Linked DNA regions of Homo sapiens. The protein of the gene in region 2 interacts with the protein of the main gene of each other region in a biochemical or structural test. Each region holds a gene or a part of one and is shown on either strand. Other genes may lie near its edges. The genes, in order: UTRN, SNTB2, DGKZ and MAST2.

The links.
Region 1: the proteins of SNTB2 (region 2) and UTRN interact in a test that uses a peptide from one of them, tested with the Homo sapiens proteins (one study listed by BioGRID).
Region 3: the proteins of SNTB2 (region 2) and DGKZ form a complex in vitro, tested with the Homo sapiens proteins (2 studies listed by BioGRID and IntAct, with this or other methods).
Region 4: the proteins of SNTB2 (region 2) and MAST2 form a complex in vitro, tested with the Homo sapiens proteins (one study listed by BioGRID).

What each region holds. Positions count from the first base shown.
Region 1 is NC_000006.12:144,281,237-144,288,343, reverse strand, and holds the start of UTRN (utrophin), read right to left. Parts: upstream 3,010-7,107; 5' UTR 2,523-3,009; intron 1,847-2,522; exon of another isoform or gene 1,674-1,846; coding exon of another isoform or gene 1,065-1,673; exon of another isoform or gene 390-1,064; intron 1-389. Other genes in the region: uncharacterized protein LOC124901418, read right to left, coding at 1,065-1,673.
Region 2 is NC_000016.10:69,182,354-69,190,183, forward strand, and holds the start of SNTB2 (beta-2-syntrophin), read left to right. Parts: upstream 1-4,810; 5' UTR 4,811-4,813; coding exon 4,814-5,393; intron 5,394-7,830. UniProt on the Homo sapiens protein: Adapter protein that binds to and probably organizes the subcellular localization of a variety of membrane proteins. May link various receptors to the actin cytoskeleton and the dystrophin glycoprotein complex.
Region 3 is NC_000011.10:46,342,900-46,350,481, reverse strand, and holds the start of DGKZ (diacylglycerol kinase zeta), read right to left. Parts: upstream 3,020-7,582; 5' UTR 2,823-3,019; coding exon 2,662-2,822; intron 1-2,661. UniProt on the Homo sapiens protein: Diacylglycerol kinase that converts diacylglycerol/DAG into phosphatidic acid/phosphatidate/PA and regulates the respective levels of these two bioactive lipids.
Region 4 is NC_000001.11:46,023,609-46,030,628, reverse strand, and holds part of MAST2 (microtubule-associated serine/threonine-protein kinase 2), read right to left. Parts: intron 6,858-7,020; coding exon 6,649-6,857; intron 4,953-6,648; coding exon 4,814-4,952; intron 2,899-4,813; coding exon 2,766-2,898; intron 1,862-2,765; coding exon 1,696-1,861; intron 1,164-1,695; coding exon 1,062-1,163; intron 799-1,061; coding exon 676-798; intron 501-675; coding exon 391-500; intron 23-390; coding exon 1-22. UniProt on the Homo sapiens protein: Appears to link the dystrophin/utrophin network with microtubule filaments via the syntrophins. Phosphorylation of DMD or UTRN may modulate their affinities for associated proteins. Functions in a multi-protein complex in spermatid maturation.

The DNA.
Region 1 (7,107 bases), on a different chromosome or scaffold from region 2:
TTACACACTACTTTATTCCATTTGCCCATTATCAGTAACACTTCTTCACTATAATGTTTCACTTGCCACTCTCCTCAAGGTGATTTTTCAAATTTTTCTCTTCTTGATAATGAAAATCCCTTACAGGTTGCAAAGATACAGCAGAAAAGGTGATCAGAGTACAGAGGAAAATGGGGAGAAAGAAGAATAACAGAAGGCTATTTAAATAGTGATAGCCACTGAGGTTACTTGCCATTAATGGCCAGAGGAATTTGAGTACACTTAAGGCAAAGGATGACTCCTTCTAATTGCCAAATGCAGAATCTTTGGTTCTCAGGAGACAGAATCAAAGTTTCACCACGAACAATGCATCCCAGTGTGACCCTCCGTCTTCCACACCTATAAAATGGAGGGAACACCATCTTCACAGAAGGCTAGGTGAGAAACTGAGAATCAATGAATGAGATGTTGCTTTAGAAGCTTCAAGCCCTATACAAATGCAATTTATTGTTACCTCTGCCCTAGATTTCCCTTCCCTCAAATGATATTCTGTAAAAGCCAGATGTTCTTACTGAAACCAATCCAGTCAAGTCGATATTCACTAACTCTCCCTTCAGAACGCTTCCGGCTGTCATATGGACCACCAAGCAAGAGTGTATGAAATAAACATAAGGTGTTTAAAAAATAAACATAAGGTGACAGCCTTAAAGACAAAACTAATGTTTCAATTTTTTAAGATTTTAGGAATTATACAATGAATATATGTATATAATTTTTATTTTGTACTATATTTTATGTATATAGCACATATATATCCAACAGTGTGCATTATGATGGAAATGCTGTGTAATGCAAACACTATTCATTAATTTACTATAGGAACCAAAACCTAGGAACGATTGAGATAGTAGAAAAGGAAGCCAAGCGGACAAGAGTTTGCTGCTCTGCTTGAAACACAGTAAAAGAAAACGGTGAGTGCCAAGAACTGCCATTTACACTCGGAAGCGCTCCAGGGAAGGTTAATACTACTGTGATTAATACTGTTTACAGAGCCAATAAATTTTAGGTAAACACCCAAAGGAGAGTTAAAGAGTTGTCTCATCGGTCCCATAAAGGCTGGTAAAAGGGGCGGGGAATGGTTCCACGCCAACCCTGTCCGTCACCGCAGAACTACCCACAAGCTTCGCATTCCTCCACCTCTCCCCTGACCCTGAGCTATCCGCAGGCTGCGTCTCCCACGCCCACCGCCAACGAACCGGGAGGGCCCAGATCGACTTCCTGAGGCCGGTGCAACTTACAAAGGAATGGATGCGGTCGCTGCCGCCCGGCCGGGCGGCCGGGAGGGTCGGCTCAGACCTAGGGAATCCGGCCTCCCCCGAGCTCCGCGCGCTCTGGCCGCGGCGACCGCTGCACTGACCCTCCCAACCGCGGCAGGGGGAACTGGCCCGCAAGGCCCTGGTGATCCGGCTGACCTGAAGGCTGGGAAAGAGGAGGCCCTGTCCTGAACACCTCAGAGAGCGGGGCCGTGGAGTTAGAACCCGAGCTCTGCAGTTCCTTGTAAAATAAAGTGCTGGTCCCACAGCTCTCTCGGAGGTCGGGCAACGTTTTCTCCCTCCTCCTCGAAAAACGCACTGGAATGAGTCCCTTTCATAATCTGAGGCTTGGAGGAAAAAATCCTTTGAACAACCTGCCATCTGAAAGTTGCACAGCCTTCAATTGGTGCTTTGTTGGTTTTTAAGTGGCCTTGAGCAACCACAGCCTCGGACCCCGGGCCAAAGCGGGGCATGAATTACCTTGTCAGTTGCAGCAAGAGATCCCCAGAGTCCGGAAAAGGAGAGCCGGCGACTGCGCGGGACTACACACCAATGGGGCGCCCCCCTCCTCCTGTCCCCTCAGTCTCTCCAGGGCCGCTGCCAGGGAGCTTGGCGATCGCGCCACACTCTCCGGAGCCCCACCCTTGGGAGCAGCAACCACCCAGAGGTCAAGCACGTTCCCCGCCGGGCGGCTGGCTGGGAAGCGCTCCGCTGGCCGCCGACCACACAGCCACCCTCTGCCCACCCTCTCCTGTGGACACCGCCGGAGCCCCGCCTTCCCCGGGCCCGGGTGTCTGTGACAGACTCTCCTAAGAGGCCACGTCCCCTCTTGCAAATCACTGGCCCAGCGCCCTGCACCGCGCGATGCACGGAGGGCGACTCTGTCACCCCGGCGGGGAGGAAGATTAGGGGAGCAGGGAGGCAGCACAGAGCTGGTCAGATAAGTTTGGATCGTTCACAACTAGTACGGATCCCAAGGACCTCCACGCCCGAGCTCTCCACGCCTCCGGCATTCTCTCTCGCACCGCGGGGAGCTAAACTGAGGCCCCGAGGAAAGGGCACGCAAAAGTTACTCCCATCTTCGACTCTGGGACTTGGGAAGCAGCTCGGGACGCCGATCCCAGGCGGAAGAACCACAGAAAGAGCCATCCTCCTCCCGGCCCCCGCCCCATTCCCTCGGGGGCTGTAGTCACATTACCAGCCCGAGGCTTCAATAATGCATGGGCTTACCTGCTGCCCGCGGGCCTCCTCGCCTGCCGGTCGCCACCGCCGCACCCCGAGCTGGCCAAGGGCTCCTCTAGGAGTTTGACACGGAGTAACCGCGGGGGTGTGTGCGAGTGTTAGTTTGGTGGTGCGATGTATTTAAAAAAAAAAATAAAGCTTGGAGAAGCAGACACGAACCGAAATTTTAAAAAAAGAAAGAAAGAAAGAGAAATTGACACCCGACTGAAAACGCCCCTTACTTGTGCAATCTTCCTGCCTGGTAGTTCCGCCAAAAACAAAACAGTCAAAGCGCAAACCTGGAAGGGGCGCGCAGGCACCAACTTTGCCAAACGCTACAGAGTTTTCCGTTTGCAGAAATGACCCAAAAGAAGGGGGGCGCCGCTCCCCGTGATTCCCCAATCGGCTTCTGGAGCCAGAGGCTCCTCCTCGCCCCTCGGCGGGAGAAAGCCCGCGGCCGGCTGCTGCTGCCCGCTTCCCTGCTCCGAGGAAAAACGACTCCACAACTTTGTGCGCGAGAGAGGCTCGCTCCTTCGGCGGCTCCTCCTCCTCCTCCCCGCTGCGGGCCTGCCCCTTTGTTGGAGCCGAGCGCTGGAGGCGGAGGAGGGAGGGTGGGGCGCAGGACCGCTGGGTCGCGCGTTGCCGCCCCCACCCCCCGGGAAGGGGCTCGCCTCCGGGCAGCCAGGGGTCCGCTCTCCAGATGAGAAGGGTGCAGATCAGCGCCAGCCCTCCGGCCCGCGCCTCTGCAGCGCTCCGGCTCCCCCTCGGCGCTCTCGCCCCGCCGCCGCCGGCCCAGCAACTTTGTTCCGGAAGATCAGCCCCACTACGTTCCCGGGTCAGCGTCTGCCGGGCCTCGGCGGTCACCGCGGCCACCGCGTCGGGAACTTGGCGCCCCAAGTCACCTGACTGCGCGCCCCGTCAATCAGCGCCGGCCCTGCGCGCCCTCCCAGCCCGCAGCAGCCCGGCTCGGCGCTTGGCTGGCCTGGGGCGCGCGCTCCAGAGTGAACCGTGCGTGCCGGGAGCCGGGAGTCCGGAGACCGAACCAGAATGGATGCCTCGAGCAGACACAATTCCCCTTATTCAGATTATCCGAAAATGTGAGTCACGTCCCCTTAGGCAAAACAGGTCTCTAGTTAGGGTGATATTTTTTTAAGAGATAAATTCCAATCTGCCTTCCAACTCACCCCATCTCAGTTTGCTGACGTTGCTGATTTTTTTTTTACCCCTAGTTCCAACCGTATATTTATTTTACATTATTTCTCTAGTGTCGTTGTTAATATTGAAAAAGAAGTTTTCTCTTACATTAGTTTGTATTACAAGTAGTGTTTGCGCTGACCTTATTTTTCTGTTTTCCAATATGCACACACAAACGCACATCTGTTATAGAGCCTGTTCCAAGCTTGAGAGGTTGACCAAAAAATATCTGGGAAGAAATGAGCTCGTGATGTGTGTGCATTTTTCTTATTTACACATTTCATTGCTCGTGTGTTCCTGTGATTCTTTTACACGATCAGCACACGTGGGAGGGGAAAGAAAACAGCAACCTGAGTTCCTAGTTCGTATTAACAGAGAAAAGGATGGTTGATACTGGAGCGCCGGTTTATTGCTGGCTTAATATTTGAGTTAATTTACGCGGCAGTAAAGATTAAACCACTAGGGGCCTTAAACTAATTTTCAGAAAGAGTTTACTCGCCTTTTGTTATAGTGAAAGTTTCCCCCATCCATCCCTAAGTGCTCCAGGGAGGGGGCAGGTAGGAGATTCCCAAAAGAGACTCTTCCTTGTAAGGTTTCTAGGACAGTTTCCTTCCTTTTGATGATTTTCTACGTATAAGCCAAATAAAATCCAAAGGATTAACTTGAAATGGGTATGATTTTATTCATTCACTTCATTCATTCATTTAACAAGCATCAGTTTAGGGCTGTCAGGTTTGCTGGTTCTGTGGGTAAAGCAAAGATAAATCTGATAGTGATCTTACCCTTAAAGAACTTGGAATGTAGTAGGTGAGATAAGACATGTAAACAAGTAAGTATATACAAGATCCGGGAGATAAATGCCATAAGAAAAGAACAGATCAAGTGCTAGCTGAGTATGGTCACATAGAGGGACTCCAGGATTTTTTCTTTCTTTCTTTCTTTCTTTTTTTTTTTTTTTTGACAGTGTCTCTCTCAGTTGCCCAGGCTGCAGTGCAGTGGCGCGATCTCGCTCACTGCAAGCTCCGCCTCCTGGGTTCACGCCATTCTCCTGCCTCAGCCTCCCTAGTAGCTGGGACTACAGGCGCCCACCACCACGCCCTGCTAATTTTTTGTATTTTTAGTAGAGACGGGGCCTCCCAAAGTGCTGGGATTACAGGCATGAGCCACCGTGCCCAGCCCCCAGGTTTTTTTTAACTGATCATTTTGCAGACACCAAAAGTTGCTTATCACTCACTGTATCCTGGTTGAGTTGATGAAACTCAGATTTTCTCCTTCAAAATAGATAATAAGGCCACATTGGAGTGTTTGATGATGTTGTCACTTAAATTAATATTTGTGACACTTTTCACAATTTACAAAGTAATACATCATTTTAGCTCAAAAATTTTGAAAAACGCACGTTTAGGGTCCTATGATTTCTGGGATTGTAAGCTGTGAGGAGATGTTTAGTCGAGCTTCCTCAACGCCTGTAAGAGATGGAACAGGAGGCCAACAAGCCACCTTCTGTGCAGGAGTGACCTGCCCCGCATATCAGCCATAGTGGCTTACAGCCAGTTACCTGGGGACCTGTGCCCTATCTGTTTCTAGCCCTTCTCTCCAGGCAGAGACTGATGCTCTTTGTAGGTAATGAGCAAAAGAGGCTAAAGAAATTCTTGTTGACTGGGTGCAGTGGCTCACACCTGTGATCCCAGCACTTTGGGAGGTCGAGACAGGTGGATCATCTGAGGTCAGGAGTTCGAGATCAGCCTGGCCAACATGGAGAAACTCTGTCTCTACTAAAAATACAAAAATTAGCTGGGCGTGGTGGCACATGCCTATAATCCCAGCTACTCAGGAGGCTGAGGCATGAGAATCGCTTAAACCCCGGGGCAGACGTTGCAGTGAGCCAAGATGGCGCTACTACACTCCAGCCTGGGTGACAGAGCAAGACTGTCAGAAAGAAAGAAAGAGAGAAAGAGAGAAATAAAGGAGGGAGGGAGGGAAGGAAGAGGAAGGGAGGGAGGGAGGGCGGAATTCTTGTTGATGGAACGATCAAGAGATCTCAAGCTGGTCCTGTGCTGGTCCTGTCCCCCAACACTTTCTTTATTTGGTAGGGAAACCACATTTGGTGGGCGATCTTGACCACAGAGGGCTATATTTCCATAAAGCACAGTGTGATCTTCCTTTATATCCAGAGAATCTAGGTGAGGCACGGTGGAGACAGGCCTCTAAGGTAATGGGCCTGCAACAAGGATGCTCAGTGGGGTTTTGTCTGCTCATCCCAAAGATCAGATCGCTGTAGAACATCTGGAGAGAATAATAGGAATGTGGCCCTGGGTCTACTGGTAACCCAAAGTCAGAATTGCCCTGCTGTCACCACAGAACTGTGAAAATTAAGGAAAATGGAGTTAGTGTCACTGCAGGATAGAAAGCCTTTGACAAAGGAGAAAATTATGATATGAGTAGTGTATATATAGATTCATATATAAAGATATATGTATATGTGTGTATAGTGTATATAGACATGATTCACATAAATATTATTCCCATACAGGGAACTGCATCCTAATATAAGAACCAAAAGGAAAACATTTGCTACTAAACTTTGTGCAAGACTATATAAATGCAGTTTTTCTTTAAACAGTAGAAACAGGGGAAAATACACAATGTATAAAAAAACAAGACACTCCTTTAGCTTTACCTTTGGTATTGACTATAATTAAAGCCCCACATACAAGCATTTAAGAGAGGAGGAAAGTTTAGGGAATTTAGCCTTTCTTATATTTTTCAGGTAAAAAAAGTATAAATCTGGAGCTTGTGTGTAATAGATACTGGATTTTTGCTGAGTATTGTTGGTAAATTCTTCAGTCAAACGTCTAGTATGTGTGCGAGTTGATAAAATTTTATCATATAAATTTTTGTAATAGAATTGAAGAAACAAAAAATAATAGCACATGAAACTTTTAGAAAATAAATAGTACAAAGGCTGAGTTCCTTACAACTTAATGCACTCAAGAATTACCCAGAGAATATATTTTAAATTCAGATTGATTGCCATTCCCCAGAAATTCTGATTGACTAGGCCTGGTGGGGCCCAGGAAGCTGCAGGTTTAACATGCCTTAGCTTTAGATCAGAATAGCTGAGGAGCCACACTTTGAGCCCCTGTGCCCTGGGGTGCTGGCCTTAAATAGGCCACTTTGGATGATTGGAGGGGTCAAGAAATTGCCCTACCAAAAAAAAATCCATACTGAATCAATCATAATTATGAAATACCCGTGATTAGCTTTATCTCTTTGAATTCAAGTGTTTCATTCGATTCGGACCACCCTGGAGGTTACCTACAATTGGTAAAACCCTAGGACTATTCCTGGCAATTTAACCTGCACAGGTGGTAGGAAGCATGGCCCAGTTCTGAGGAAA
Region 2 (7,830 bases):
GGACTACAAGTGCATGTCACCACGCCCAGCTAATTTTTGTATTTTTAGTAGAGATGGGGTTTCACCATGTTGCCCAGGATGGTCTGGATCTCCTGACCTCGTGATCCCCCCGCCTCGGCCTCCCAAAGCTCTGGGATTACAGGCATGAGCCATCATGTCCAGCCTGAAAATAATCTTTAAAGGAAAAATTATCAAGTAATCCCAATACCAATCTATCTCCATTAGCTACTTCCAGGGTTAAATATTTTGTTATATAACTTGCTGTCTTATGTAAGTGCCCTCACTATTAGTTAGCAGATCTGTGACTTACTCCAACTCTATTGGCAAAAAGGTCTTGATAGTCTTGCAGAGAATTCCCAGCACTTCCCTTCTGCTAATAAAGGTGTCCTCAAGTGCCCAACTCCTGGGTAATTACAAATGCAAAAGTGTTAAAAATAGCACTCATACTCTAAGGAATCAGCTGCGAAACACTCTCTAATAAGCAGAAATTTCACATAACTCAGGCCTCTGGGGGCTCACGCCTCAGCTGGAGCAGAGCCAGAACGTCTGTGACCGCAGGTGCACTTGGGCACATTGGGACCTGCTGGAACAGCAAGCTGGCCTCTGCAGTTGATTTAGGAGAGGGCTGGAGGGTTGAGCTTTTGCTGACATTTGCAGCTTGGAAAATCCGACTCCACTAATCGCAAAGAGGATTCTGCTGTAATGATTTTTTTTTTGGTAAGATACTTTTCTCATTTTGAATTCTTTCTTCATTTGGGCTCTGGACACTTCCCAGCCTCTACATTTATTATTTTAACTTCTGTTACAGGAGGCTCTTCAGAAGTTTCTGCCTGCACATGAACATGCATTCACAGAGTGGTGCACGGCCACGGTTTACGAGCCTCAACGTGCACTTCATGAGCAAGCAAGTTTACAGCCCCTTTTACAGGAATTGGTGCACATTCCCTCTGCTTGCCCCTGTCCCTGCCCACATGAAAACACAGGGATTTTTTGCTACTACTGCTGAAGAAAAGTTAGAGGACACCTTGACCTCATGATTTTGCTGAGCACTTGCTTTCTTAACAGTGTGCTTTCTGGACCCTTAGTTTATTTTTTATTTTTTTAATTTTTTTTTTTTTTGAGACAAACTCTTGCTCTGTCGCCCAGGCTGTAGTGCAGCGGTGCGATCTCGGCTCACTGCAACCTTTGCCTCCTGGGTTCAAGAGATTCTTGTGCCTCATTCTCCTGAGTAGCTGAGATAGGGGTGTGTACCACCACACCTGGCTAATTTTTTTTTTTTTTTTTTTTTGTATTTTTAGTAGAGATGGGGTTTCACCATGTTGGTCAGGCTGGTCTTGAACTCCTGACCTCAAATGATCTGCTTGCCTCACCCTCCCAAAGTTTTGGGATTATAGGCATGAGCCACTGTGCCCAGCTTGGACCCTTATTTTTGAGGTCTGAAGGGTACTGTATAGTGAAAATAACCCTGGATCCAGAGGCTGGTAGTCCTGAGTTGTCTCTGCCTCCTTCCTATGGACTTTGGGCCATGGTCTTTGGTCTTTGGCTCTCTGGCCCTCAGTTTTCTTAGCTCTTCTAGTCCATGAAGCTGGAGGAGGTGGGTGGGTTGTATCATTCATGTCTGAATAAAAGCCACTGCAGGCTCTGCAATGTGCACAGCAGTGGCTCATGGCCTTTGGTCAGGGAAACTTCCTGCCAATTGGATGAATCACAGGCTTCAAAAAAATACCTTAGAGACCAAATTTTGCATACAATTTTTGGGAATGCCCACGTACACTTGCCCCAACAAAAGGCCATGGCCTCCAGGCTAAGAAAGTCAGATCTGCGGCCAGGCACGGTGGCTCACGCCTGTAATCCCAGCACTTTGGGAGGCCGAGGCGGGTGGATCATGAGGTCAGGAGTTCAAGAACAGCCTGACCAACATGGTGAAACCCCACCTTTACTAAAATACAAAAATTAGCTGGTGTGATGGCACGCGCCTGTAATCCCAGCTACTCGGGAGGCTGAGGCAGGAGAATTGCTTGAAACTAGGAGGTGGAGGTTGCAGTGAGCTGAAATCAAGCCACTGCACTCCAGCCTGGGTGACAGAATGAGACTCCATCTCAAAAAAAAAAAAAAAAAAAGATCTATAAAGTCAAGTTCAAACTCCTCGATATTTTGTTATGCTTTTCAGCTGGGCGTGGTGGCTCATGCCTGTAATCCCAGCACTTTGGGAGGCCGAGGCGTGCAGATCACCTGAGGTCGGGAGTTCAAGACCAGCCTGGCCAACATGGAGAAACCTTGTCTCTACTAAAAAATACAAAATTAGCCAGGCGTGGTGGCACATGCCTATAATCCCAGCTACTCGGGAGTCTGAGGCAGGAGAATCGTTTGAACCTGGGAGGCAGAGGTTGCAGTGAGCCGAGATCGCGCCATTGCACTCCAGCCTGGGCAAAAAGAGTGAAACTCTTGTCTCAGAAAAAAAAAAAAGATGCTTTTCACACTCATATCCTCCCATTTCCACTGACCCTATGCTCTGTTCACATTGGAATTCTAGCATCTTCCTAAGTAACCATCTATGATGTTAATTTTGTGTCAACTTGACTGGGCTAAGGGATCCCCAGGTAACTAGTAAAACATAACCTCTGGGTATACCTGTGTGGGTGTTTCAGGAAGAGATTAGCATTTCCACGGTAGACTCTAAAGAAGATCACCCTCACCAATGTGGGCAGGCAGCATCCAGTCAGTTGAGGGCCTGAGCAAAACAAAGGGCAGAGGTAGGGGGAATTCATTCTCTGCCTGAGCTGGGACATCCATCTTCTCCTGCCCTCAGACTTTGGTGAACCTGGCTCTCGGGCCTTGGCAGTGGGATGGTGACTTACATCATTGTCCCCCCACCCCAACTCCCACCCTCACCCCCTTCTCAGACTTTCTGTTTTGAGACAGGGTCTTGCTTTGTCACCCGGGCTGGAGTACACTGGTGCGATCTCAGCTCACTGCAACCTCCACCTCCTGGGTTCAAGCAATTCTGCCTCAGCCTCCCGAGTAGCTGGAATTATAAGGGCCCACCACCATGCCTGGCTAATGTTTGTATTCTTAGTAGAGACGGGGGTTTCACCACATTGGCCAGGCTGGACTCGAACTCCTGACCTCAAGTGATCTGCCTGCCTCGGTCTCCCAAAGTGCTGGGATTACAAGCGTGAGTCACCGCGTGTGGCTCAGACTTTTTTTTTTTTTTTGGAGATGGAGTTTTGCTCTTGTTGCCCAGGCTGGAGTGCAGTGGTGCAATCTTGGCTCACTGCAACCTCTGCCTCCCGGATTCAAGCGATTCTCCTGCCTCAGCCTCCTGAGTAGCTGGGATTGCAGGCGCCTGCCACCACACCTGGCTAATTTTTTGTATTTTTAGTAGAGACGGGGTTTCACCATGTTGGCCAGACTGGTCTATAACTCTTGACCCCAGGTGATCCACCGCCTTGGCCTCCCAAAGTGCTGGGATTACAGGTGTAAGCCACTGCACCCGGCCCAGACTTTCTTTTTCTTTCTTTCTTTCTTTCTTTTTTTTTTTTTTTTTTTGAGGCAGAGTTTTGCTCTTGTTGCCCAGGCTGGAGTGCAATGGTGCCATCTCAGCTCACCGCAATCTCTGCCTCCCAGGTTCAAGCAATTCTCCTGCCTCAGCCTCCCAAGTAGCTGGGATTACAGGCATGTGCCACCACGCCCGGCTAATTTTTTGTATTTTTAGTAGAGATGGGGTTTCTCCATGTTGGTCAGGCTTGTCTCAAACTCGTGACCTCAGGTGATCCGCCCACCTCAGCCTCTCAAAGTGCTGGGATTAAAGGCTTGAGCCACCGCGCCCGGCCCAGACTTTCAATCTCAGGTTTATACCACTGATTCTGGGTCTCAGGCCTTTGGGCTTGGATTGGAAGTGCACCACCAACTTTCCTGGGCCTGCAGTTTGCAGATGGCAGATCGTGGGACTTCTCAGCATCCATAATCTCGTGGCCAGTCCCTTGTAATAATAATAAATTTATATATCTCTATATATCCTATTGGTTGGTTTCTCTGAAGAACCCTAAGACACCATCATTCTGCAAATATCCTTGAGGCCTGCCAATTGTGGCTTCAGGGTTTAAGAAGACATGGTTCCCTCTTGAATTACAGGCAAGTAAACGAGATTACAAAACATTGACAAAGGCTTGGATCATGCTGTTGGACCTTTGCTTGAGCTGTTCACCGTCCGTTGTTACCTCTGTGAAGCTGACCCCAGGCCTAACCAAATGTTCCTTTTATGCTGTTCTGGGGACGTCTTCTGCATGTCACTTAACCACATAGTATCACACCTAGTTGGTTGGTTCTGCATTTTCCTTCCCCACTAGACCGCAAACTCTCAGCTGTTGTTGGTACTATTGAGCTTAAGTACAGGGCCTCAAAAGGAGCCGGAGTACAGGGCTAAGCGCTCAGTACACAGGGTACGAACCAATCAATGCAAGAATGAACGTGCCACCGGGTCTTGCAGGCTTGAGAAGTGTTTCTCCAAGCTGATTTTGCTTTCCGTGCCCGGGCAGCTCCCGTGAATTGCACGGTAGAGGTCAGGAGTTTCTGGGGGGTCCGTGGGGAGCCAATGGAAGGATGAGGAGAAATGCAGTCCCACCGCATTCGGGTTGCCCACGTCCGGCGAGAGGCGAGTGATCGGACAACTTCTGCACCTCCCGGAAGCGGCTGCGCCGGCCCCGCCCCTCCAGAGGCAGGCGTGGCCTCATGAATAATGAATCGTGCGGGGGAGGGGCCGGGCCCGCCCCTCCGGGCGGGAAGAGGGAAGCGCCGAGGCTGCCTGACTGGAATGAGGGTAGCTGCGGCGACTGCGGCGGCTGGAGCGGGGCCGGCCATGGCGGTGTGGACGCGGGCCACCAAAGCGGGGCTGGTGGAGCTGCTCCTGAGGGAGCGCTGGGTCCGAGTGGTGGCCGAGCTGAGCGGGGAGAGCCTGAGCCTGACGGGCGACGCCGCCGCGGCCGAGCTGGAGCCCGCTCTGGGACCCGCGGCCGCCGCCTTCAACGGCCTCCCAAACGGCGGCGGCGCGGGCGACTCGCTGCCCGGGAGCCCAAGCCGCGGCCTGGGGCCCCCGAGCCCGCCGGCGCCGCCTCGGGGCCCCGCGGGTGAGGCGGGCGCGTCGCCGCCCGTGCGCCGGGTGCGGGTGGTGAAGCAAGAGGCGGGCGGCCTGGGCATCAGCATCAAGGGCGGCCGCGAGAACCGGATGCCGATCCTCATCTCCAAGATCTTCCCCGGGCTGGCTGCCGACCAGAGCCGGGCGCTGCGGCTGGGCGACGCCATCCTGTCGGTGAACGGCACCGACCTGCGCCAGGCCACCCACGACCAGGCCGTGCAGGCGCTGAAGCGCGCGGGCAAGGAGGTGCTGCTGGAGGGTGAGCGGGGCCGGGCGGGAGGGTGGGCAGGCCGCGGCGGCCTGGGCTCGCGGGAGCTCACTTTGTTCCTGCCCCGCCGGCGGGGCGAGCCGGTTCTCTCCCCGTCTCTCTCCAAACCCGGGTTTCTGGAGCTTTCAGTGTGGAAAAACGGATGCTTCTTGCAGGAAAAGTTGGGCAGCCGCCGAAGTGTGGCTTGCAGCCCCTAGGGAAGACTCGGCTGAGATTGAGTAAAAAGCAGCTGCCTATGAAGCCCCACCTCGGCCCGATAAGCTGACACTAAGAACTTGAGGGAGAGCGAACGGCTCGAGTGGGTCTGTCTCCGTTTGCCCGCTGAGAAGTGCCGGGTTGGCGCTTAACTCACTCACCTCTGGCTCCTCGGGGCGGGCGGGTCTATTAAAAAAAAAAAAAAGTCCATCTTCACCGATGCCAGCGGTATGCTCGGGCAAACCACCAAAGCGCTGGTTAATTTATGGGAATTTAACCCATCATTGGCTCTCAACAATAACCAAAGGAGATCATAGCATTTCATTGAAGCCAGAAAGCTGAAACAGCAAGTCTGTGTGGTTAACGAACCTTGTTTAACAGTGGAGGCTCACGTGTTTGAACATTTACTGCCAACTAGAGTTTTGCCCCTTTTGCAAGTCTGCTGCCAGCTTCCTACCACTCACAGGCGCGCTGCTTCAAGACTCTTGGGGTTTTTGTAAGAAACTTGAAATGGCAAATCACAAGATAGGTTTCAATAACCAGGATTATTCTTTACGTTAAGTTATATGTATGTGATCTGTAAGTTGGATCTTTCATGATGAATTTGAACTAAGGCAAAAATAAAATTCCTCTCCTCTAAGGACTCATGCATGTTGGAGGTGATAGAGTATTGTAAATTATAAACGAAAAGTCAGCTGCTTTCTTCAGAAATTTTTGAGCGGTCAGCTTTCTTTCACTGGTGATTATGGCTAGCTGTGTTGAAAAGAATATAAAAGAAGATGCTGTCCCTACTTGGTCTCTAGTTGGAGAAATGATAGAAAAATGCAAAACAACTTATAGGGAGGAAAGGAATGAAGTTGGTGATTACGTCGTGAAACTATACTTAAATGCCAAAGGAATGCAAAGTTAGAAAATAGTTAGTGGAGATGGAATTAGCCAGGGAGGACTTTTTCCCGAAGCTGAATCTTGAGCCAGGTCTCCAAGAAGTGATGGACATAGGCAGGCAGGGATGAGTCAGGAGGGTATTCCTGGCAGAGGAAGGACAGAAGGGAAGGGCTGGGGGCTGCTGGTGAAGAAGGACCAATCGTCAAACCGAGAGGCCAGAAGTCCAACTTGGCACAATGGATTTTCACTTTCTTATAAATCAGCTTGTGAATATTTGGAAAAATACTGATTTACCAGAAATGATTTCATGTACACCAGTTGTGAAGTTCCAGTGTCCCACCTTTATAATATCCTATTTATAAACCTTATTTATATTGCATGTCTAGGTGGGGCTAGACATTGCTCGGAAATTAGTGTTAATAGAAGGAGTAAAATTATAGATTGTGGTTTGGGTGTGTGTCCAAAAAAAACTGTTACTCTAAACGTGTACCTTGAAGTTGGTCTAGCTAAGCATTTGGTTATAAATTCTTACATCCAGAATATTGAATTTAGTACTATTTATGTAGTCCTCAGTTGTGATGGGCAGACAGTTGAACCTTGTACACCATATTTAGAAAAAAAACACAAAAAACCTTTTGGCCAGGCGTGGTGGCTCATGCCTATAATCCCAGCACTTTGGGAGGCCAAGGTGGGCAGATCACCTGAGGTCAGGAGAACATGACGAAACCTCGTCTCTACTAAAAATACGAAAATTAGCCAGGCGTGGTGGCAGATGCCTGTAATCCCAGCTCCTAGGGAGGCTGAGGCAGGGGAATCGTTTGAACCTCAGAGGTGGAGGCTGCAGTGAGCCAAGATCTCACCACTGCACTCCAGCATGGATGCCCAGCCTGGATGACAGAGCAAGACTCCATCTCAAAAACAAACAACCAACCTACTTTTTGTATAGGTATAGTTTGAACCTAGTATTCAGACCAGTAAAATGAAAACCTTGCAGTAAATGCTTCCCAGTCTTTATTGGGCTAAAATAGGCCACGTGTGCTTTTAGAAAGATGGCCGCATAATAACATGTTTATTGAATGCCTTTTTACCTAACATGCAGGTTCTACTTTATTTTCCCACTTTGTACAAGACAAGCAGTTTTTGTTCTTATAAGTAGTGAGGAAGTCAATATAGTAGATTTACGACATTGCATTTTCAAGCCACTGGGTGTAAAAATAAAATTACTCAAAATATGTAAAACCACTGAAAACAATGATTTAATTGAACCAGTCAAACATTATTTAAAATTGAGAGCTGGTGTCCCATCCAGGTAGGCCACTTTTAAAAGACAGATTTTAAGTTTAGTCTT
Region 3 (7,582 bases), on a different chromosome or scaffold from region 2:
GGGGTGGATGACTGGGGAGAAGCAAGAGCTAGGTTAAGAGCTAGCATGGAGCTGGGATAAGATGAAGGGCTGGTTTCAGCTGGGGCTTCGAGGACTTTTACCTGAGGCTGCAACAAACAAACAAAGGTAGCAGGACCAGCCAAGCAGCATTGGAGGGGGCAGAACCCAGAGCAGGTGTACTATTCCACCCTTCCACATGTCTGCCCCCAGCACCCACCCCTTGGCCCCATCAAGTCAAAGGGAAGGAGGCCAGCCCCAGTGAGCTCCCAGGCCTGCCAGGAGAAAGTGCTTTCCCTTGCTGCTCTCTGCCTGATACTACTGGGTTCTCTGAATGTATTCATTTCTGAAGGCCCCACTATCCCCAGCACAGTGCTCCCAAACAAAGGACACTCCTTACATGCTTCCAGAGGTGCTGCTGAATTTTCTTTCCTCTCATCAGGCATCCTATAAGAGCACTTACACTCCCCAGCGTGACGGACTACTGTGCTTCTCAAACTTGATGGGACATGAGAATCACCTGGGAAGCTTCAAACAATGCCCAGGCCCCACCTCCAGACCTGATGGGTCAGACACGCCAAGGGAAGATCTAGGAATCTGTATTTCTTAAAGCTCCCTTGGCCATTGTGATGTTCCGTTTGGGATCCTGGTATAGAGAAAGGGATGTGGATTTTGGAATCACACCAACTTGACTTCAAACCTTATCTCTACCTCTTCCTTGCTATGTGACTCTGAGCAAATCCCCTCTGACTGTGTTTCTTTCATCTATAAAAATGGAGAAACAGGCCAGGTGTGGTGGCTCACACCTATAATCCCAGCACTTTGGGAGTCCGAGGTGGGAGGACTGCTTGAGGTCAGGAATTCAAGACCAGGCTGGGCAATGCTGTGTGAGATCTCATCTCTACAAAAAATTGGTTTTTTTTTGTTTTACAAAAGGAAGAATACCACCTACCCTGCTTATTTTAGAGAATTACATAAAGGTATCTGTTGGTTCTCTGGTTTCTTGTTCTTCCTCCCGAATGTGCTCATCCCTATACCCACAAACCTGTGCCCTTCAGAAGGGGCACAGCCACAGGTCAGAAGAACCCAACACTTGATACCCTGTGGGCAGCAACAGGAAGCCTCTGGTGGCGCCCCTCCCTCCCCCTGCGGAGCCTGTGAATACTGGAGGCTACATCCTGCAGAGCTGGGTGTAAACTGCTCCATCTTGCAGGGCTGTGGGTGACAAAACAGAGCTACTGGAAGTTTCACTCCCTGCTCTGTTTTATATGACATTGAAGCCTGCGTGGTAACACAGGAGCCCACGGAGCTCCATCTGCCAGTGTAAGAATTCAGATCTGTGCATGTGCTCAGAGACAGAGTGCAGGTGCAAAGAGTGGGCCCTAGCCCGGGTGAGACGGGTAGAGGGCACAAGTCAGCATCACGGGTATGCTAGCCCACACGACAGGAGAAAACCGCCCATGTTATTGGTGGGTAAAGTCTACCCAGGGAAGGGGCAGAGCAAAGCTAAGGGGCGGGGTGGGGGTGAATGCCACCAAGTCTAGGCAGCTGCAGAAAAGTGAGAGGGAGGCCTTGGGCAGACTCCAAGTGGTCAGAGTTCAGTCTGAGGTGGCTCTGGGGTCCTTGGCTGATTGGCTACAAGCTCCTTGGCCACCAGGGAAGGGCAAGGCTCGGTCAGGAAGAAGCGCAGGGAGCCAGGTCAGGTACTCCTGGGGCCTCACGTCCCTTACCTTACACCACGGCTACCAGGGCAGGCAGCGGCTCACGACCAAGAGCAGCACACTTGCCATGAACTGCCTGCACTCAGTCTTTCCACACTCTCCCCCCGGTTCCCCGCTAGAGTCCTGGTCAAAGCTCTGTCACAGGCACAAGATGGTGACATTTGGAGTGCTGGGGGAGGGGGCAAGATGAAGCTTGAACAGCCAGCAGATTCCAGACTCCAGCCCACCCCATCCCTTTCCCAGCATGGGCTGGAAGAGGGTAGAGGGAGACATGCTGCCTGCCTAGCAGAGGGATGGGCTGGGGTCTCTCTGCTAATTAAGAGCAAGGTAGGGCAGATGATCAGGCACCCCCAACCCCAAGGAGAAGCTTAACATGTTAAACAATTAAACCAGTGACCAGAGCTTGGGGACAAGCCATGTGTGGTGACGGTATCAACGGGGCTACGTTCTGCAGATGCCACGCAGTGATGGTAGGCAACCTGGTCCCACGAAAGTCCAAAGGGCGGTGTGATCCCCACCTCAGTGGTGCCAGGAGGCTCAGAGAGGCCCTGTTCTATCAGTGCCAAGAAGGCGTGGGTGACCAGTCCTGGGGGCCCAACCTGCTTGTGCCGGGGGCTGGGGTGATTCCATCTTCCTGCTGGAGGGTTGGGAGCCGATCCTCCCACGGTACTACACATGAGGCGCACTAGACTGCCGGTGCCAGGGAATGACCCCCACCCGGTGACAGTGCCAAGCCGACCGATCCCGCCCGTGTCCCGGCCCTGGGGGATGACTCCCAGTGGGTGCCCACGCCAAGACGGCTCGTGCCGCCGGTGCCAGCCTCTCCCCGACTCAGTGTCAGTACCGAAGTGGCCCGGACCCCCAGTGGCCGAGGAATGTCCCCCGGTGAGGGAGCGGTAACCTGCCGGTGCCTCGGTGCCTGCCCCGCCGCCGCCCCGCTCACCTGTGCCCGAAGAGCCGCAGCCCCGGGAAGCGCCGCTTGTTGAGTCGCCGCGGCGCCTTGTCCGGCTCGGGACCGGCGTCGCGCTCGGAGCCGCTGGACGAGGCGGAAGCCGACTCGGAGTCGCTGCTCCGGGCCTCGGGGCTACCGTCCCGCGGCTCCATCCGGCCCTAGCCCCGGCCGGCGGAGGGCCCGCGGGAGACGCCCATGCCGGGCCGGCGGCCGGGGCTCAGCACGCCCGCTCCGCGCCGCCCGCCACCTCCATGGCGCGCGCTCGCTCCGCCCGCCCCGCGCCGCGCGCCCCCGCTCCCCACGCCCAGGTGCCCGGGAAGCCGCTGCCGCCGCCGCTCCAGGAAGTGCCGCCAGCCGCGGCCGCAGGACCCCGCATAGCTGGCCGGGCCGCTGCCTGCCCGCCGCCGAGCACGCCCCCTCGGCCGCACGGTGGCACCGGGCCCGCAGCGCCCTCTGCCGGACGCCCGCTGCGCTGCAGCCCGCTGGGGCGGTCCGAGGGGCGGGGCGACGAATGGGCGGGGCAGCAGAAAGCCCTGCCCCCAGCCCGGCCCGGCCCGCCTGGATGGGACTGAATCTCCCGGCCTGGCACACTCGCACTGCGCGCATCCAGACGCGCATCTTTCCTCCCCCGATCCCTCCGCTACCAAACAACTGCACGCTCACAAGTGTACACTCGCGAGGGCTGCTGTCACCACCTCCCCTCCGCTCTCGCACACCCTACTCATAGCCACTCACAATCTCCACCCATACCTCCTTGGCTCCCCCAAATCGCACCCAGGGGAACAAAAGTCACACAGTGCTCCCCATGCACGCAGAACAAACACATCCCTTACACAATTATGCCCACTCATTACTTAAACGAACACTTCCCACCCCAGCCTCTCGCACTCAGTGACCAAAGTCACTTAATGACTCGCACACACACCAACAAAGAACTCACAAGTTTCTCCTACAAAGTCATCCTTCCACAGCTATTCACAATGGTTTCCAACCTTCTCACCCAGGCCCAACACATCGCATTTTCCTGACATAGTATTCAACAGAACCTATAGATCTCATATGCTACGGGAATCACCTGCACAGCCCTTACACACTCACAAATACACAGAAGGACAACAGGTACCACACTCCCATTCACAAGCACACATGCCCACACAGAACACACACCTTTCTCCTACATACAAATACTCCCAGGACAATGGTTACCGGTTGCCACATCCCTCACACATATGTATGTGTGTGCATATGCACACACTCCCATCCAGAAATATACCTCACATGCACACACAAAGACACCCCACAATGCAGCCGAGGCCGTCCCCCTCCAGAAATGAGAGCAATTGGAACCCAAGCAGTCACCTGTAGGGGCACAGCCATCACACACACCGGGGCTGTTTCTGATGGCCCCCGCAGGGCTGACGAAGGGAGGCCAGGAGCTGGGAAGCATGGTCTTCCACCTCCCCAAACCCTACCACCCTGCTGCCCACACCAGCTGCCCACTACTTCTGTGTGCACGCCTCTCTGCCAAGCCACATCCTGTGTCACCTTCGCTTTCATCCTCCCCTCTTGGGTTCTGGCAGCCCGTTTTCCAGCCTTAGTCAGCCGCAAATAGCCAATGCTTAGGGCTGTGACCTGCGGACAAGCCTGTGATTTTGAGGAAGAACCAGCACCCCGAGGCCCAGAACCCTCTCCCAGTTTCCTGCAAGTTGGGAGAAGGTCTGATCAGGGAGGTGGGGCTCCAGCCCTCCAGCCAGCAGCTGGTGCCAGGGTGGCCAGGAGGAGGGCAGATCAATCCCCAAGTATGCCTGACAACTGGCCTCTGGGGTGCATGGGTCCTTTTGGGGAAGTTTCCCAATGGCTCTTACTCCAAGCTCTGAGAGAAGAGATCAGAGGCAACTGAAGACCCCACGGAGTCTCCACAAGGCCTTGCAGCTGGGTCAGAAATCTCCAGCATCCAGTGCCACACTCCTGGGGGGGCTCCTCTTCCCAGATCCCCCCACTGCTAGCTTGCTCAACTCCTGGCCTCTCTCGAGCTCAGTTCCTCCACACAGTCCAAACATCAGAGCTCCCTGCACCCTGCCAATAACTCCTTTGCCCTACTCTGTGCCTCTGCAGAGTGCTGGATGACAGATGGGTGACCCTACTTCTGTCACCCCCATCTCAGATAAAAGGCTCATAGAGGGACAGAGGTCCCATGCCCACTCCCAGGCCACCCCTTGTACCTACTGTGTCTGGGGTGCCTCTGATGGGATCTGTGGCACGTCCCAGGAGCGGTAGCGCCACATCTGCCTCAGTGACCCCGGCCGCTCCCCTTCTTCCGTCCCCAGCGCCTCCACTGGGCCCAGAGCTGAGGATTCATTGCAGCTTCCCCCGGCACTGTGGCCAGCCCCCGGTGCGCTCATCCTGCCCGGCGACTCTCTTCCTCTTTCGGCACTTCCTGACGGGGGTGGGGTCGAGGGGGGGGCCTGCTAGAGGCCGCTGGCCGCCCAAGCTGAGGACCACAGGCTCAGGGCTCATAGGCGCCTTCCGCTGGCTGGGGCCAGCTGCCGTGAAGAGCTGCACAAGAAAGCAAGGGGCAGGTGGGGACAAGCCCAGACCAGCAGCCAGGAGGCAGCCATGGGGCTTGCTTGGGCTGGAATCTGCACCTGGGCTCCTGTCTGGTTTTCCTCTCCATTTAAACTGTCTGATTTTCAACTCTTGGTCCTGCTGAGGTCTCCCGCTTTATGACAACCACCAGGTACAATGGCTGGGTGTGCCCAGCCCTCAAAGAGCGCTCTCTTCCTAGCACTTCTGTGTGCAGCATACCATCTTACACAGGGCTGGGCATACAGGAAGGTGGTGTAGAGAAATGAGCAATGAGGATGGAGCCTGGAGACATGAGCATGTGTCCTGTTCTGCCTCTTACCAGCTCTGTGTGGCCTGGATCAGGTCATAAACCTCTCGGAGTCCTCTAAATAACTTTTGGGACAAGGTAGCCTATAAACAAATAAACTAATGAATACATGTGCCAGGGAGATTTTCTGAGCCTCAGTTTTCTCATCTGTAAAGTGGAGTAATAGGCCAGGCATGGTGGCTCACACCTGTAATCCCAACACTTTGGGAGGCCGAGGTGGGCAGATCACCTGAGCTCAGGAGTTTGAGACCAGTCTGGCCAACATGGTGAAACCCCATTTCTACTAAAAATACAAAAATTAGCCCGGCGTGGTGGCAGGTGCCTGTAATCACAGCTACTTGGGAGGCTGAGGCAGGAGAATCGCTTGAACCTGGGAGGTGGAGGTTGTGATGAGCCGAGTTCGCGCCACTGCACTCCAGCCTGGGTGACAAGAGTGAGACACTGTCTCCAAAAAAAAAAAAAAAAAATTGAGCTCATGGTGTTATCTGAGGAATAAAGAAGAGATAGGAAGGTTGACAAATTAATTCATTCAATAAATACTTATTGAATGCCTTCTGTGCATCAGGCACCGTATCGGAGAACATAGCTCTAAAAACAAGGAAGCAGGGCTCTGTCCTCACAGAGCTTAGATTCTAGTGGGGAAGACATTCAGGAAACAAACAATCTATGTACAATATAATGTCAGCAAACAAGATGTGCCATAAAGATTGGGAGGCTGAGGCTGGTGGGTTACTTGAGGTCAGGAGTTTGAGACTAGCCTGGCCAACATGGTGAAACCCCCTGTCTACTAAAAGTACAAAAACTAGCTGGGTGTGGTGGTGGACATCCGTAATCCCAGCTACTCTGGAGGCTGAGGCAGGAGAATCGTTTGAATTCGGGAGGCGGAGTTTGCAGTAAGCTGAAATCACACCACTGCACTCTAGCCTGGGCAACAGAATGAGACTCTGTCTAAAAAAAAAAAAAGATGTGCTATAAAGAAAAATGAAGCCAAAGGAAGGGAGAAGAGTGATGAGAGTGACTTAGGCAGGGGGAGGGGATCAGGGAGGGCCTCTCTGGGGAGGTGATATTTGAGAGCAGACCTGAATGAATGGGGAGCGTGAGCTATGTGACTTACCTGGGAGAATAGCATTCTAGGTGGAAGTAGAGTCAGAGCAAAGGCATGGAACAAAGAATGTATTTGTGTCTGGAGAATTGCAAAAAGGCCAGCATGGCCAGAGAACAGGGAGCCAGGGGGAATGCGTTAGGAGCTGGAAAGATCTCCAGAGGCCAAACTGTGCTGGAGTTCAAGGCCATTGTGAGGATTTGGTAAATAAATACTAGGGCATATATTCACTCTTTATTCTTAGGACTGGTTCTAGGAAGGAAACTGTACCTTCCTCAAGCATTCTTTAATCGCCCTGCTCTATAACTAGTTCTTTAGTTGTATATGTGTTTGTTACTGTGAATTTCTTGAGGACAGAAACAGCATCAGTTCAGTTCAGTAAACATTTATGCTACAGAACCCTTCAAGATGCTATCCCGACCCTTAAAAACCTCCATCTGGTGCTGTAATCACCTTTGTGTCCCTCATGATGGGAACATAATATTTTTCAGTAAATATTTGTTTAATAAATGCATGCTATGCAATTAATAATTAATACTCAGTAATCATAAAACAATGGCTAATAGTTCCTGAACATTTCTGTGCCAAAAATCTTACTGAATATGTAACGTAGCTCTTTGAATCCTCTTAATGACTCTAGGAGGTAGATCTTGTTATTTTCCTCCTTTTTTTGCTTTTTTTTTGTTTTTTTTTGAGACTGAGCCTCACTCTGTCACCCAGGCTGGAGTGTAGTGGCGTGATCTCTGCTTACTACATCCTCTGCCTCCCAGGTTCAAGCGATTCTTGTGCCTCAACCCCCAGAGTAGCTTGGATCACAGGCGTGCGCTACCATGCCCAGCTAATTTTTGTATTTTTAGTAGAGACGGAGTTTCACCATGTTGACCAGGCTGGTCTTGAATTCCTGACCTCAAGTGATC
Region 4 (7,020 bases), on a different chromosome or scaffold from region 2:
GCCGCTCCATGCTGCTGTACACCTGTGGGCACAGGGGATGCGCTGGGGATGGGCTCTGGCAGCCGTACCTCCCAAGTGGCATAAAGCATCCTTGGCATCGGAAACCTAGGAATTTGAACCAGTCGGTTCCATCCCTCCTTCACACACCCCTGCTGAATATTTGGGGAAGGAGTTATTCCACTGATCTGACCTGGCATCTCATGTCAGGGACAGCAGTGGTTCTAGAAGCACCTATATATAGCTATATGTAGCCCCAACCCTTAGCTCCTCTTTTTCTAGAGGTGGCCCCAACCCCAACTCCCTGAGCCTGCCCCAGGTGTGCCCTTTGACAGGCCCTCTTCTTCTGATCCTCCAGCCTGTTCTGCCCATTCTGGGCCTCCTCAGTCACACCTTGTTGAACCTTGGAGAGCAGGAAGAGAACTGGCGGATCTCAAGGCAGCCATCCTCACTCACTTCTTCCTCATCCTCCGAGTCCATGTGGTGGTATCGCTCTGAGCGGGCTGGGCCAGACATAAAGGACACTTTCCTTCAGAGCCCTGCTGGTGGCCTCCTTGTGACCCCATTAGATTTCAGCAGAGCCCTGAGAAGTTGCTCCCAATGCAATTTCAGTGTGCACAGGTGTTTCTAGGCAAACAGGTAGGACCCATCCTCCACCCCACCCATCGGTGGCCTTACTGTCAAAATAGCTAGTATCATCCTCTGACTCCAACTGAGGAATAAATTCAGCCTTCTGGCGGAGAAGTCCTGTCCAGTCCAGACCAGTAAAGAATGGGTGCTGCTTCACCTCATAGGCACTGCCTGTGGACAGGGAGGACATGGGCAAGGGGGTAGGATGAGCAGCATGGAGTCTAGGTCAGCAAATCTAGCAAGAAGCCAGACCTTCAGAAGCTATACCTAGGGGATCAGCTCAAGCATCTTCCCTTTTCTGCCTACAGAGCAGGGCAGAGTTTCAGGATCCAGAGGGGCTGCCCGTAACCGAAGCCTGAACCTCCAGGGTACATGACTCAGCCTCCCTTACCCCTTTTCCAAGTAGTGAGAAAAGTTAGCAGGGCCTGCCCTACCTGTGCCAAGTCTCTCCAGAGGGTTCTGGTGGAGCAGTTTGGAGGTGAGGTCCTGGGCGTCTGGGGGCAGTGCCTCATCACCCTCAGGCCACACAATCTCATCTGAAGTCATCAGGGGTGAGAGGGAAAGGAGAAATTGTGGGTAGAGTGGAGAGATGCAGAAGAGGGTCCCAGAACAGTGAAAGGAAAGGAGGCAAAAAGGACCCAGCCTGGAGCCCCTGAAAGCCTTGCCTGGGACCCCAGTCCTTAAATTCTATAGGTTCCTAGACCATAGCTTGATCTTTGATCCACAGCAGGCACTGCAAAGCTCTAGCTCACCCTGCTTTTATACTCCACAAAACATACACAGACGTACCCCTCACACTTATGGGATGTGCACATACACAGACAGGAACACCCAGGTGTATATGAGAGACCAGGTGTCTATGAGAGACATGTGAAGCCCCAAGGGACACAGTGTGCACATGTATGTACATGCAGAAACACAGAGACACCCATCCCCAAAGCAGCAGACATCACAAACACACATGATGAGTTCAGAACAAGAGCTCACAGGCCTCACGAGCTGCCTGCATACATCATATTTGTGGATTCAGACTCTGTTTCCCCACTGGGCCAGGGGCATAGTACCTACCACTGATCACCTGCCCAAAGAGCTCCTCCGGAGTATCTCCAAAAAAAGGGACGCAGCCCACCAGGAACTCATACAGGATAATGCCCATGGCCCACCAGTCCACTGGCTTCCCATAGCCCTGGCGCAGGATCACCTCAGGCGCAATGTATTCTGGGGTCCCGCATACCTGGGCACAGAAAAGCCAGGCTGGCTCAGCCTCCTGAGGCTGCTGACTGGCATGACAGCCGGAGATGGGGGATGCTCCCATCTCGAGCAGAAGAATCTCTGAATGAAGACTCAGCCCACCTTAGTTAATGAACAAGATCAACAGAAGCCCCAGGGAACAAGAGTCGGAACTGTCAGTAGGTATTTCCTAATTAACAAAAATGTCTCATTCTAGCCCGGAACTACCATCCCTTAAGCCCTCAACACCCACCTCTGGCATGTGATCCCACAATGGGCCTCTGCACTCCAGCCTCTAACAAAACAGACCCTATCAGTCATGTAACAACTACAGGGACCGGTGAACAGTCACAACCTGAAATGTCAAACCAGGGAACATCCAGAGGCTGCCTCTCAGGACACTGGGCCACAGCCCAATGGAAATTCAGAGCTGTGTTCCAAGAACCTCAGGCTCCAGGAGAGCCTTGCCCTTGATTCAGGCTGGGAGATTCAGGACTGATCTCATATGAAACTCTGTGCTAACAGTTATATGACCTATTTTCCCCAAACCCTGAGGAGGAAGATGACTTTGGATTTTATATCCATATGATTCTCAAGGCTCATCCTGTTTTCCAAATGTGCTACCTATCTCAGTGCCTCTCTGGAACCCAAAGGTAGAAAAGATAGGGGTTCCCAATCTTAACATCTAGCTACAAGGTAGGCATATGGCCCCAAGGCCTTATTCTAGGGCCTGGAATCTATGTATGTGTACACAAATGTAGAGATGGGGTCTCACTATGTTGCCCAGGCTGGCCTCAAGCGATCCTCCTGCCTCAGCCTCCCAAAGGGTTGGGATTACGGGCGTAAGACACTGCGCCAGGACAAGGGCCTAGAATTTAACCCCCAGTGTATCAACTACCCTTCCTTACCTGCTTGTCCAGGAATTCCCGGGCATCCTTTTCAATATGACCCTCATACAAGTTCGTTGTCAGACTCATGAGGCCAATTTTGGACAGTCCAAAGTCCGTGAGCTTGATGTGCCCCATGGATGTAATTAGGAGGCTGGAAGAACGAAGAAATAAAATTAAGAAGTTATTCCTGGTTTTCTGAGAGTACTGATTTTAGTATATGCCCAGTTTCCCCACTCAGGCTTCCATGGGGGTACTGTGAGACACAAGCTGGGTAGCTTCAGCTGGGGGGACAGGCAGGTGTGGACACGTAAATCGCTCTGGCTGTGTGAGTGCTGCATTCTGCACAAGCAACGAACCTGCCTTTTGCCCATTCCCACAACTCCATTTCTGCTTATTGCCCTAACTGTATTCTATGTTGGGGGCAGGAGTCATTCAGTTGAGGAACAGAGTTTCTTCTACAGAGCTGAGATCAGCCTCATCCTAAGGCAGCTGCTGGAGCCATTCCTAGTCCCCTCTCCCAATCTGAGTGGCCCATAATACTCCTGTTTCAGGGAGAGGGGCAGGGGGCACACATAATTTTGTTCCATGTCCATGGCTGGTCTTGGGAGGAGGGTTAGTTGGGAGAAACTAGAACTAAGATCCCTTTATATACTCTGCCTGAGCCACTCATTTTGTGCTGAAGGCTTTACCCTGCCACCCTTTTATTCTAATGATTCCCCAAATAGTACCTCTGGCTCTGACTTCCTTTTTGAGCTCCAGGCCTACCCAACTGCCCATGTGTCTTACAGGCTCCAGAAACTCAACCTGTCCAAAACAAAGTCATGCCTCCCAACTGGTTCCCCTCCTCAGTGAAAAACAATAATTTTGGTTATCTGTTGAGCTCTGTGCTAAGTGCTTTAAAAATATTCTGGCCCCTGAAATGTTTTCTAGAGTAACACATCAAAGGTAGGTGTAATTATTCCCTATATTAGAAAGGAGGAACGTGAGGGTCAGGGAAACTTTAATTAGTAGACTCAAACTCAGACTTAATAAGCAGAAGAGTGGCCATTTGAATTCAGGTCTGTCTTATGTCAAAGCCACTTTCTTCCACAGAGGCTTATCACCCTGCACCAGTCCCAAGCTGGAAATCTGGAACACATCCCAGCCTCTTCTGTTCCCTCACTTCCCTTCCTACCCCCACCCCAGCCTGATCCTCTTTCCTTTATACTTCCCCACACTACCCCTCTTCTTTCTATCCTGACTCCCTGTTCTGCTGCAGGCATTGCTGTCTTTCCCTGGTCTCGGTATCTCTTTGGCAGTGGTCTCAGTGTCTCTTTTCACCGGCAGAGTGAGCTTTCTAAACCTGAACCATAATCTGGGCATGCCATTCTATCATATCTTTGGTTAGCAGACCCTTCCAAGACTCTCTAGGCCCCTTTAGAATAAAACCCAAATATAACAAAAGGGCCCTTGATGAACTAGTTCCTGCCTCTCTCTCTAGCCTTTTCTCTTACTACTCTCTCACCATCTAAGCTGTCGCCATATTGCACTATTTGTAGTTCCTGAACAAGTGCTGTTCTCTTGCACCTGTGTGACTCTGCACATTCTGCTCTCCTGCTTTAGAAAGCAGGTCTTCCTTTTTCCACTTGACTAATACCCTCTGAGAAGAAGCCTATATACATATATTTCTGTCTCCCACTGTAGACTTAAGTTCTACATGCCAGGGACTACATTTAAAAACCCACAATATAGTGCTGGCACAGAGTAGATGTCAGTAAACGTCAGGACACTTGTTTAGCCATCTACTAGATGTGCTTATTCTTTTGTTCTTGCTTGGTTTCTTCAGTGGGGCTCCTCAATGACTCTTCCATGTCACCGAAGCCTTATAGTGTTCCAGCCAGACCTTGAGGCAATGATCTGCATCTGGGGTGGTCGGGGGGCTAGAGAACTAGGCCCAGATGGACACACACAGGAGCATGTTTTCCCGGTAGCCATCTGGATAGATTTAGAGCTACTGTGCTTGCCAACATTTTATCTGGAGACCCAAGAGGGAGACCCTGGACAAGGGACACAGACTGTGGACATACTTGTCAGGCTTGAGGTCACGGTGCACGATGCCATAGTTGTGTAAGTACTCCAGGGCCAGCACAGTTTCCGCAAAGTATAGACGCACCATGTCCACAGGCAGGGCCCCAATATTCTTCAGCAGAGTGGCACAGTCTCCCCCTGCAACAAGCCCAGGCTACCATGAGGAAAGGATTCAGTTCCCTGCTCTAGCTAGCCAGCTCCCATCTGGCAGTTTCTGAGGTCCCAGAGGAGACAGCTTCATGGAATATCCTGGTGCTGGAGACTCTGATTCTAGCCCCTTTGCTGCTGGCATGGGTGGGAGACAGGGTGATATGGTTTGGCTGTGTCCCCACCCATAGCTCATCTTGAATTGCAGCTCCCATAATTCCCATGTGTTGTGGGAAGGGACCTGGAGGGAGATAACTGAATCATGGAAGTGGGTCTTTCCCATGCTATTCTCGTGATAGTGAATAAGTCTCATGAGATCTGATGGTTATTTTTATTTATTTATTTTTTTGAGGCAAAGTCTTGCTCTGTCACCCAGGCTAGAGTGCAGTGGTGTGATATCAGCTCACCGCAACCTCTGCCTCCCAGGTTCAAGCGATTCTCCTGCCTCAGCCTCCCGAGTAGCTGGGATCACAGGCGTGCACCACCACACCCAGCTAATTTTTGCATTTTTTGTAGAGACGGGGTTTCGCCATGTTGGTCAGGCTGGTCTCAAATTCCTGACCTCAGGTGATCCACCTGGCTCAGCCTCCCAAAGTGCTGGGATTACAGGCATGAGCCACCACGTCCGGCCCATCTGATGGTTTTATAAAGGGGAGCTTCCCTGCACAAGCTCTCTCTTGTCTGCTGCCATGTGAGACATGCCTTTCACCTTCTGCCATGATTGTGAGGCCTCCCCAGCCACATGGAACTGTAAGTCCACTAAACCTCTTTCTTTTGTAAATTGCCCAGTCTCTGGTATGCCTTTATTAGCAGCATGAAAATACACAGGGTATGGAGGGGGGTGGAAAGTAAAGTGAATCTGCTAATAGCTGTCATGGACATTTTTCAGGCCAGAGAGGGAAGGAACCCAGGCCTTTATTAAAAGTAATGGCAAACATGCAATTACTTTTGTACCAGCCTAATGTTTTTTAGGACAGGAATACTGCATACTGTAAACACATCTGGCTGAGATGTTAACATCTGTTCATGTTACTTCCTTCTTACTGGCTTTTAGTTTCTGAGTAAAGTAACACTATGAACTCCCAGCATGTACCCAGTAAACACTAAAGGACAGTTTTGTTCAGCTTCAGCTTCAAGACTAGGCACAGTATCTTTGGAGGCTGTACACACAGTGAGAAGGTGAGAGGGAAGGGAAACTGGCAAAGCTGCTGCCTCCCTCCAGAACTATGCCCCATGTTGCTCTTCTGTTCTATTCTCAGAGCATTTTGCTTGGTTTTAAGGGGTGTCCCCTTTGCAAGCCAGTCAGGGTAATTAATGGCTTTCCTTTCTTCTGAGGGTCCAGATGCAAACCTCCTAGCACCTAATCCTGGGCTTTTGTAGCTCTGCTGCCTCCTCTGTTGCTGTCTGATACCAGCAGTAGAGAGCGTGCAGGCTTTGGGGTGCAAGATTCTATAGCTGCTGGCCTGCTACATCCTATCCCAGAATGCCTCTCATGGTAGAGGCAGGGAGCTTTGTGCCCACTGTGGCCAAATGGTCTCTGTGATCCTGAGGCAGAAACCAATGCCAAAGGTGGACTGGAAAGCTGGGCCCTGAAACTTCACCTCTGTACAAAGCTGCTGGTCCCTGTTTAAGGCTAAGTCTCAGACTGTGCCTTGGCCTCCATGCCAGGCCACCTTTGCCTCAGTACCTTCAACGTACTCCATCACCATGCACAAGTGGCGCTTGGTATCAAAGGAGCAGAACATGCTGACCACAAAGGGGTTCTCAGCGAAAGTCAGTATGTCACGCTCCACGAAGGCCTGCTGGATCTGGTTCCGTAGGATCAGGTTCTGCTTGTTGATCTTCTTCATGGCAAAGCGCTGCCGGGTGGACTTGTGCCGCACCAGAAATACAGCCCTGGGAAACAAAGTCCGGCCCATCCCCCATGGACCCTCAGCACCTGAGCTGTGCTCTCTGCCACCCAAACTGCCTTCTCTCACACCTTAATTAATGCACAGAACAAGGGGGCAAGGGCATGCATATCAGTGAGAAGGGTCTGGGACCCCCTGGTCCATAGAAC